Linked DNA regions of Homo sapiens: region 2 is linked to region 1. The links come from fine-mapping of genetic effects on gene expression. A gene starts in region 1. The other region holds a variant in brackets. All regions are shown on one strand. Distances are from middle to middle.

Region 1 (4,401 bases):
CAGTTTTTGACAATTACAAATAAAGAAAGTAGGAACAATTGTGTACAAGTTTGTGTGTTAACATAAGTTTCCATTTCTCTGGAATAGATGCTCAGGAGTGTGATTGATGAGTCATATGGGAAGCATATGTTTAGTTTTTTAAAAGAAACTACCATGATATACCCATCTGTGAGTAATATATGAGAGATCCAGTTCTGTGCATACTCACCAGCATTTGCTATTTTATTTTTTAAGCTGTTTTGTAGTTGTTGTTGTTGTTTGTTTGTTTTTGAGATGGAGTCTTGCTCTGTAGCCCAGACTGGAGTGCAGTGGCGCGATCTCGGTTCACTGCAACCTCCGCCTCCTGGGTTCAAGTGATTCTCCCCTGCCTCAGCCTCCTGAGTAGCCGGGTTTACAGACGCGCACCAACACATCCAGCTAATTTTTGTATTTTTAGTAGAGACGAGGTTTCACCATGTTGGCCAGGCTGGTCTTGAACTCCTGACCTCGTGATTCGCCAGCCATGGCCTCCCAAAGTGCTGGCATTACAGGCATGAGCCACCGCGCCCTGCCTTTTTAAGCTGTTTTAAATAGGTGTATGGTGATATCTCAGCATAGTCTTAATTTGCATTTCCTTTATGGCTAGTGATGAACATCTGTCCTTATTTGCCATCTGTATAACTACTTTGGTAAAATATATATTAATGTCTTCTGTATATTTAAAAACTTATGATCCAGGATACAGTTTATCTTAATATATATACCAAGGTTGCTTGAAAAGAATGTGTATTCTGTTGGTGGGTGAAGTATTATGTAAATATCAATTAGATTAGGATGGTATTAGTGTTGATCTTTTCTATATCCTTGCTGACTTTCTGTCTAGTGTTCTATCAGTTGTTGAGAGAGGGATGCTGAAGTTTCCAATTACAGTTGCAGAGTTGTCTATTTCTAATTATGGTTCTATCATTTGATTTATTTATGTTAAGGCTATGTCGTTAGGTGTATCCACATTTAGAATTATGTCTTCTTGGTGAATTGAACCTTTTATCATTATATAATTATCCCTTTTTTATTCTTGGTAATTTTCCTTGCTGTCAATTCTACTCTCTCTGAAAGTAATATCACCACTTCAGCCTTTCAGTTTATTATCATCTAAACAACACTATTCAGCCTTTGCAGTCATCCACAATTATTAGAATTTCTTGGTTAGAGGCTTTTGACTACATGTTTTTAAAGGTTTTTGGCTGTATTGACAAATTGCCCTGCAAAAATTTACCAACTTAATACCTTAACATTTGGGCTAATTTAAAATAATCATAAATTAAAGTCAGGGCTTTCCCAATTTGATAGGTAGAAATCTTATAACTCTATGGAGGTGGAGTTGGTGGTGGTAGGTGCATCTCTAGATGACTTAAGTTCAAAAAAAGTCAAGAGATCTAAAAAAGAAGTCAAAAGATCTAAAATTCATAACTCAAGAAATAGGGGCATATGTATATTCGGAGAATCCGCGGGAATGCCAGATGCCACAGCCATAAGTAGCTGCCCTTGAGGACTGGACAGCCAGGACTGGACGGTGGGATAAGGTGACAGCTGGTTAATGGAATGGTGCCGCAGAGGACTGGTGCTTTTGTAAGTTCTCTGTAGCATTACAATTTTTAAAAGCATGTAAACGTATTAATTACCTTGACTTTACAATGACATTTGGTTGTTGGTTAAACTTGCATTTAAATTTATTATCAGAACTGCCATAACTGTGTAATCCTAACACTAAGTAAAACTCAGCCTCTCGGCGCAAATTATCACTCCCAACATTCCGCAGGCTGGTGGCGGCGCGGGCTGTCCTCGTACGCAAAACTACACCTCCCAGGATTCCGCGAGCCAAGGTTGTGGCCGGGGCCAGGGCAACCGAACTCGCGGCTCTGCGCAGGCGCACAGGCTCCGCGCCGGGCTCGCCCGCCGGGCAGGCGCACGGCGGACACCTGCGAGCCTGGAGGTGGCGGTCGCTGCGAACCCGGCGGCGCGGCCAAACCTGTGCTGGCTGCCTGGGCCTTCTGGGCCTCCTGGGCCAGAAGCTGGCGCTGGGGGCGGCGGCGGGGTGGGAAAGCGGCGCCGCCGTGGGGCCTCCTGGACGCGTCGGCGGAGGTGGCTTCGTCCCGCGGAGTCCAGGCTTCAGGTAAGACGCGCGCGCGCTTGGGGCTGGAGCGGACTCCGACACCCGCCTGGGACTTGAAGTGGAGGTGTCGAACCCTCGGCCCCCTGGAGGGGACGACGCGGTGCTGGGCCCCGGGGTGAGGGGGAGGTTCTAGGACGCCTTCGGGATCCAGGAGAGTTTGCAGAACTGAGGGGTGACGTGTGAAGCGAGCTGAGGGAGGCGCGGGAGGTGGGCGGGGCGGGGGTGGACCCTCAGGGTCGGGGGCCGGGGATTGGGGGTCGGGGGCCGGGGGCCGGGGACCTGGGCAACGCCCTGGGGCTTGCCAGTTCGAGCCCTCAGCTCGTGGCAGGCACTGGCGTCGGGTCCTCAGGCCCTTTTGCTTTGGGAGGTGATGGGTGGTGCACATTTGGCGGGGGTGGTGGGGAGCCACGCGAGGTGCGCGGAGCGGGCCTGGGCCTCCCCAACTGCCTTTGAAGGCAGAACCCCGGCAGGCCTGCAGCTGATTCCTGGGCGCTTTGGGGGCCAGTAGGGCACCTACCATGTGTGTCCGGTGGTAAGAGCTTGCCACGGCCTGCTTGGCAGTGCCAGAGTAGCCTCTGAAGAAGGAACCCAGTGAACTCCTGACTCCATGTGTGTGTTTAGGAACCCGTCTCCAGCTCACTGATGGGAACTCTCTGCTAAAGTATGTGACCGTCAGGCCAGAGTCTTGCACCAGGTGCAGGGCGACCAGTGTCTGCCTACTTTATTGCCAGCCAACACTTAGAGCGTACTCTTGGGAGAAGCAAGGCTCCGCGTGGAAAAGGATGACTTCAGGGTTATGGGGCGAGCTTGATAGGACTTAGTAGCTAAGAGCATAGACAGAGGAGGTTTCATTCACCAAATGTTTACTACAATATGTGCCCCGCCTTCAAATCTTGGTTCTCGGCTACTAGCGGTGTGCGTTTAAGCAAGTCACTTATCCTCTCTTAGCCTCTGTTTCTTTCTCTGTGAAGTGGAGATGAAAGTACAGTGCCTTTATCACGGGGTTGCAGTGGGGATGAAATAGTGCCAGGCAAGTCCTCAGCCCAGTATGTCTAACAGTAAGTGTGTGGCAAATATCAGCAGTCGTGGTGACTAACGACAGAAAGTGTTAGAGGTGCTTGGAGTCCAGGTTCATCTTTAATGGTACTAGCTGCCCTCTCTGGCTCTCATGAATCTTGCAGATCTTCCAGCTCATCCTTTCAATATTAATTTTGAGGAATCTCAGTCCCTGCAGAGCTAGGAAAGAGCATAGGTCCCCTCATCCCCAGGGGTGGTCAGCACGTTCCTTCCTGAGCCTTGGGCCCCTGCGAGAACGAGAAGGAGAGTGGAGATCTTCAGCAGAAAGGAGGGCATGGTGCTGGTGGCTGGGCCCACCGTGGCCATGTAAGCATGCTAGTTGGCAAGTTCTTGCTCTGAGCCTTGCTTTAGAAAATATTTAGCAATAAACAAAGCCTTCTAGTAAATATTGCACTAACTAGAAAATTAGATTACCAAATCCCCCATTCCAAGGGTCCTTGCCAATCTCAGCTTGGTTGTCAGTGGGATACTTTCCCCCCAGGACCTACCAATCACGTGATTCCCAGGGTTTCTTAAATTGGATGAAATAATGAATGTGAAAGGTGGAACCTGCAAATGTCATCACGGGCTTTGGAGTCCGTCTTGGTTTTGAATCCTAACCCCTCTACTTAATTGCTGTGTATCACTGGGCAATTCACTTAATGCCTCTAAGCATACCTTCTTAAATGTGAAATTGAATTAATAGCATTTACTTCAGGTAGTGGGGAATAAATGAGATAATGCGTGTAAAACAGTTAGCACTGTGCCTGGCTGAGAGTGAAAGCCAGTGAACAGGAGTTATTTTACCATTACGATTAATAATAATATTAGAAAAATAATTGTCAGACATGGTGTTTTGCCTTTGCTGTCTCTTTGAATTCACAAAACTACCCTGTGAAGTAGGTATAATTGTGTTTTTCAAGCCAGGAAGTGAAGGCTTGGAGAGGTAAAGAATTGGCCTAAGGTCACTTAGCTGCTAAGTGACAGGGATGGGAATTCATATCCTGGCATCTCCAGCTCCAGAACTGGTGCCATGTAATTCTCCTTCTCTGCTGCCCATCGTCCTTGCTGTTCTTGCATTCTTGAAGCCCAGTTATGACCTGGGGCAGCCTCCAGTCTTGCAGCAGGGAGTCTTCCCGCACCAAGTGGGTCAGAGGCAGGACCCTGCAGCCTGGCTGTGTGTTTCCTCTCTG
Region 2 (4,401 bases), 28 kb before region 1:
CATCATATATTTTAATTACATACTATATATCACATATTATATCTTCATTTTATATGTCAACAAAAAATGATAAAAAAGGCCAGACACAGTGGCTCACGCCTATAATCCCAATACTTTGGGAGGCCAAGGTGGGCAGATCACGAGGTCAGGAGGTCGAGACCATCCTGGCCAACATGGTGAAACCCCATCTCTACTAAAAATACAAAAATTAGCTGTGCATGGTGGCACGTGCCTGTAATCCCAGCTACTTGGGAGGCTGAGGCAGGAGAATCACTTGAACTCTGGAGGCAGAGGTTGCAGTGAGCCAAGATAGCACCACTGCACTCCAGCCTGGCGACAGAGCTAGACTCCATCTCAAAAAAAAAGAAAAAAGAAAGAAAAAAAATACTCTAGTTGCCAATAGAACGATAAACATACCTGTGATATAAACTTAATGGAAAAGGAGAAAGACCTAAAACTGCAAGTTCACTGCGAATGTTGCAGTGTATGTGGTGATTAAAACACGGCAATAGTCTTATGTTGGAGAAATTAAAGATTTTTCTGAGGTATTACTTTTTAAATAGATGAAAATTGAAAAAGGAAACATAAGCACTGCTCTAATTAGTTATTTTGACTTTCCTTGAATATTGCCACATCATGGCATAGATGCATGATAGTCTTGTATGTTTCTAATATTCAGTGGGATTAATAGCCGATGTTAATTATTGGCTAAGTTTGGATATCCAATGTTAACTTATCAAATTGTCAGAAAACAGAAAATTGTGAAGTGAATCACTTGAAAATGGTGTATTTTTAAAAGTTTGATTACCAGTACATCACACATTTTCTTTCATATTGGACATCAGTCTTTTAATGAGCCTGAGCTACAATGGATACACACACGATGAGAAAATAGAAGGAGAAAAGAAAGAGATGGAAAAAGAGTGTAAGTGGGGAAGGCGGGAATAACCAAGAAAAGCTTGATACAATGTGCAGGAGCTACTTACATGCATGATGAGAGTTAAATTCTGAGTAAGAGCTGTGATGAGAACCTGCTGATGGCTCTCTGTGGGTTGGGCTAGACTTTTGATGCTAGGACGATGGACAGCTCTCAAATCCTACATAAAATGCAACTGCTTTTCATTCATTTTGGAGCAAAAATAATTTGCTTCCTCCCTTCTAGAACTGTGTAGCCCAGATTTCCTTTCATTACAAAAATTTTCAAATATTCTTAAAAACACAATAATACAATAAGCCTCTATCTGCCCAATCCCAGTTATCAACCTGTTGTCAGTCTCATTTCATCTACCCAAACTTTTGTATATTTGTTTTACGCTGGGGCGATTTAGTGCAAATCCTAACATCATAGTATTTCCCCCCAAATTACTTCAGGATGCATTTCTAGCTGATAAAGACATTAAAAAATATGACCACCACGCCATTATCGCGCCTAAAAAAATTAATAAAAAAATCTTCATATAAATGTTCAATTAGCGTCTAGTCAATATTTTGGCCAAGAATGCCTCAGAGTTGGTGCTTTACACTTCGCATTGCATCACATGAGTAGGCACATAATGCTTGGTGATTCCACTTTTGTAGTGCCGAGATGGAACAGTGGATCCAGGTGTTATCACCCTGATTTTTTCGTATAAAGTTCTCCATCAACATTTCACCCAGTGGTTTCAGCATCCATTGAGGATTGTTGCCTAAAATTACTCTAAAATATTTACTAATTGTATCCTTCCATCTGCCTTTATTAGTTGGAATTGTCCACACAGAACTTGCATTACCTATCTGGTTACACTGAAAAGCAGTTCATGCAGAAGGGACAGGACAAATGCTGGAATCTTTCCCTTTCTTTGTCAGGATCCCTAGTAACATTGAAGATTGACCAGTAAATGTCTATTTTTCAAAAGTATCATTATAAACATGGATTTTGATGCAGTCAATGGCAATTTCAGTCTACTGCATTAATTTTTTATGCTTAAATTGTTTCATTTTTAGCCAGTGGGAGACCCTTCAAGTTGACCCCTGGGTGCCTTTGATATGATCCACTAAAATTGACAGTTATCTCCTTTTGTGGCACAGCCAGGACCATCTTGTACATTCCCTGCTCTGGGTGTGAAATCAGCCATTCCTCAGGGAACTCTGATTTCTTTTAGTGGGAAATGGTATTTAGAGACTACAATTCAGTCATAAAGGTCACTCATTGCTCCTAGGCCCTTTCAGCAAACAGATCTAAGATACACACATGTCTTTTTAGAAACAAAGAAATAACGAGGTACTGGTATTTCCTATTTACTTACGAGATTACAGCGTTTTCCCATTATTTCTTTGGTTGTACAGTATCTTCTTTTCTTATATCCTCCCAGCTTTTTCTGCCTCCCTGAATTTGGTTGGATAGGCC[G/C]AAGACCTAACCCCACAGTGGCTTCAGATCCATCTTTTAGTCCCCTCCCCAATTTTCCATCCGAGCACCTCCCAGCTCTGAAATGTAATGAAATGTCTGATAGTTTCCTCATTAGAACTAACGTAGTGGAAATGAAATGAACTTGAGGGCATGTGCTGAAAATCTTCCTATTCCAGGCCAGCCCAAGGTCATGTGAGCCATTGGATCCCATAACAGTAACATTTCCATGTAAACCCCTCACAGCTTTCCCAGGAAATCACTCCTGGCAGAAATGCCTCCCTAGCAAAATCACAAGCAAAAGTAATTAAATGAGGTTGGTAGTCAAGAGCATATCGCCAGAGAGCCCATCTCTGATATTCCTCTGAGACAAAGCTGAGTGTTTTTCCATTCTTTCTTTCTTAAAAAATTGGAGTCAGGTTGAATTATGTTCCATAGCAACTTCTGCCAATGAAGTTGTCATGGTTACAGGTGAACTGGAAAGTGAGCAGTGACAAGCTGGGCTTGGAGTCCCTGAGCTACATGTCTTAAAGATACATCCATTTGTCTTCTGATCCTGGCCAGAAAAGTAATGAGAATTAATAGCGTTTCCCAGCAAGGTATAACCTTTGGACAGATGCAGACCAGGGGAAGATAGAGCCAAGGACCTCTTCAAATAAATATTCTCCTCCAGAATCCAGGGTCACGTTATTCCCCCATGCCTTCATCTGCCCACGCATGGGGGATGGGGCTGAATCACTGTGTGCTTGCAGCTTCCCAAATGCAGAAACCGTGAGCCACTCCCAGGAATTCTCCTTAGATTAGAAACCAATAAATAATATCTCCCTCTCATCTATGTTAGTGCCGTCCAATAGAAATAGAATGCGAACTACAAATGCAAACCATGTATGAAATTTTACATTTTCTAATAGCCTCATTTTAAAAGGTTAAAAGAAACAGGTGAATTTTAATAATTTATGTTTAACCCAGTATATCCAAAAATGCCATTTCAATATGTAATTAATATTAAAATGAGAAATTTTACATTCTTTTTTCATACAAAATTTTTGAACTTTGGTGTATACTTTACACTTACGGCACTTCTCAATTCATTATAAACTCTCATTGGAAATACTTGACCTTTACTGAGATTTCATAAATCTTACAGTTGAAAAAGTTGGTTCACATACTCAAGTTAATCCAAACGTACTTAAGGGTTTTAAAATAACAAACTGAGTATGCTCTAAATATTAAATTTAAATGAATTAAACTGAAATAAAATTTAAAATCTAACTCGTCCATCTCACTAGCCACATTTCAAGGACAAAACAGCTACATGTGGCTGAGGACTACTACATTGGACAGCATGAGTCTAAGGCTTTGCTACTCAAAGTGTGGTCCCAGATCAGCAGCATCAGTATCATGTGGGAGCTTATTGGAAATGTGTTCTTGGGCTCTACCTCTGATCTGCTGATTCAGAATCTGCATTTTAACATGATCCCCAGATGATCCTCATGCGCATTACAGTTTAAGGAGCTCTGCTTTAACGGAAAAAAATCTAAAACTCTTAATGTGGCTTTTAAGGCCCTTGATGAGCTGACCACTGCCCCAATTTCCACTCTCATCTGTCATTCTCCAAATCCATTTTCTATCTCTTCTTCCACAATTCAGTCTCTGTTCTTGCTCTTCTCCACTTACCTGGAAGGCTCTGTTTCTTTTTTTCCCATGGACTCTCACCTTCCTTCCAGACCCATTCAGATGTCACTTTCTCTGAAACCTTTTCCGATCCTTGCATTCTGGCAGTGTTAAACATCATTTCTCTGCATTTTGTATCACTCTGTACCTTTGCTACAGAGTCCTGTTCTTGCAGCCTGGCTTTAACACCTATTTACTGTGAAGTCTTGGGCAAGTTACTCAACATCTCTGATTTTCACTTTTTCATTGGGGAAATGGAAATTATAAAACTGCCTTCATGCACTTGCGGGGATTATAGATGCAATAATATTTCCATGTAAAGATATCAGTAGTTTCTAAGTCAT

Evidence for each region. PIP is the estimated chance that this variant, and not a neighbour inherited with it, causes the effect.
Region 2: its variant is fine-mapped to the expression of POMGNT2 in whole blood (TOPMed, PIP 0.96).

Annotation. Positions count from the first base shown.
Region 1 is chr3:43,103,587-43,107,987 of GRCh38, reverse strand. It overlaps POMGNT2 (protein O-linked mannose N-acetylglucosaminyltransferase 2 (beta 1,4-)), which reads left to right and starts at 1,909. Exons shown (of 2, transcript NM_032806.6): 1 at 1,909-2,152. RefSeq lists a silencer at 1,822-2,141.
Region 2 is chr3:43,131,794-43,136,194 of GRCh38, reverse strand. No RefSeq gene overlaps it. Among named protein-coding and RNA genes, the nearest start is that of POMGNT2, 28 kb to the right of the region's middle. The variant G/C (reference allele first, on the strand shown) is at 2,387.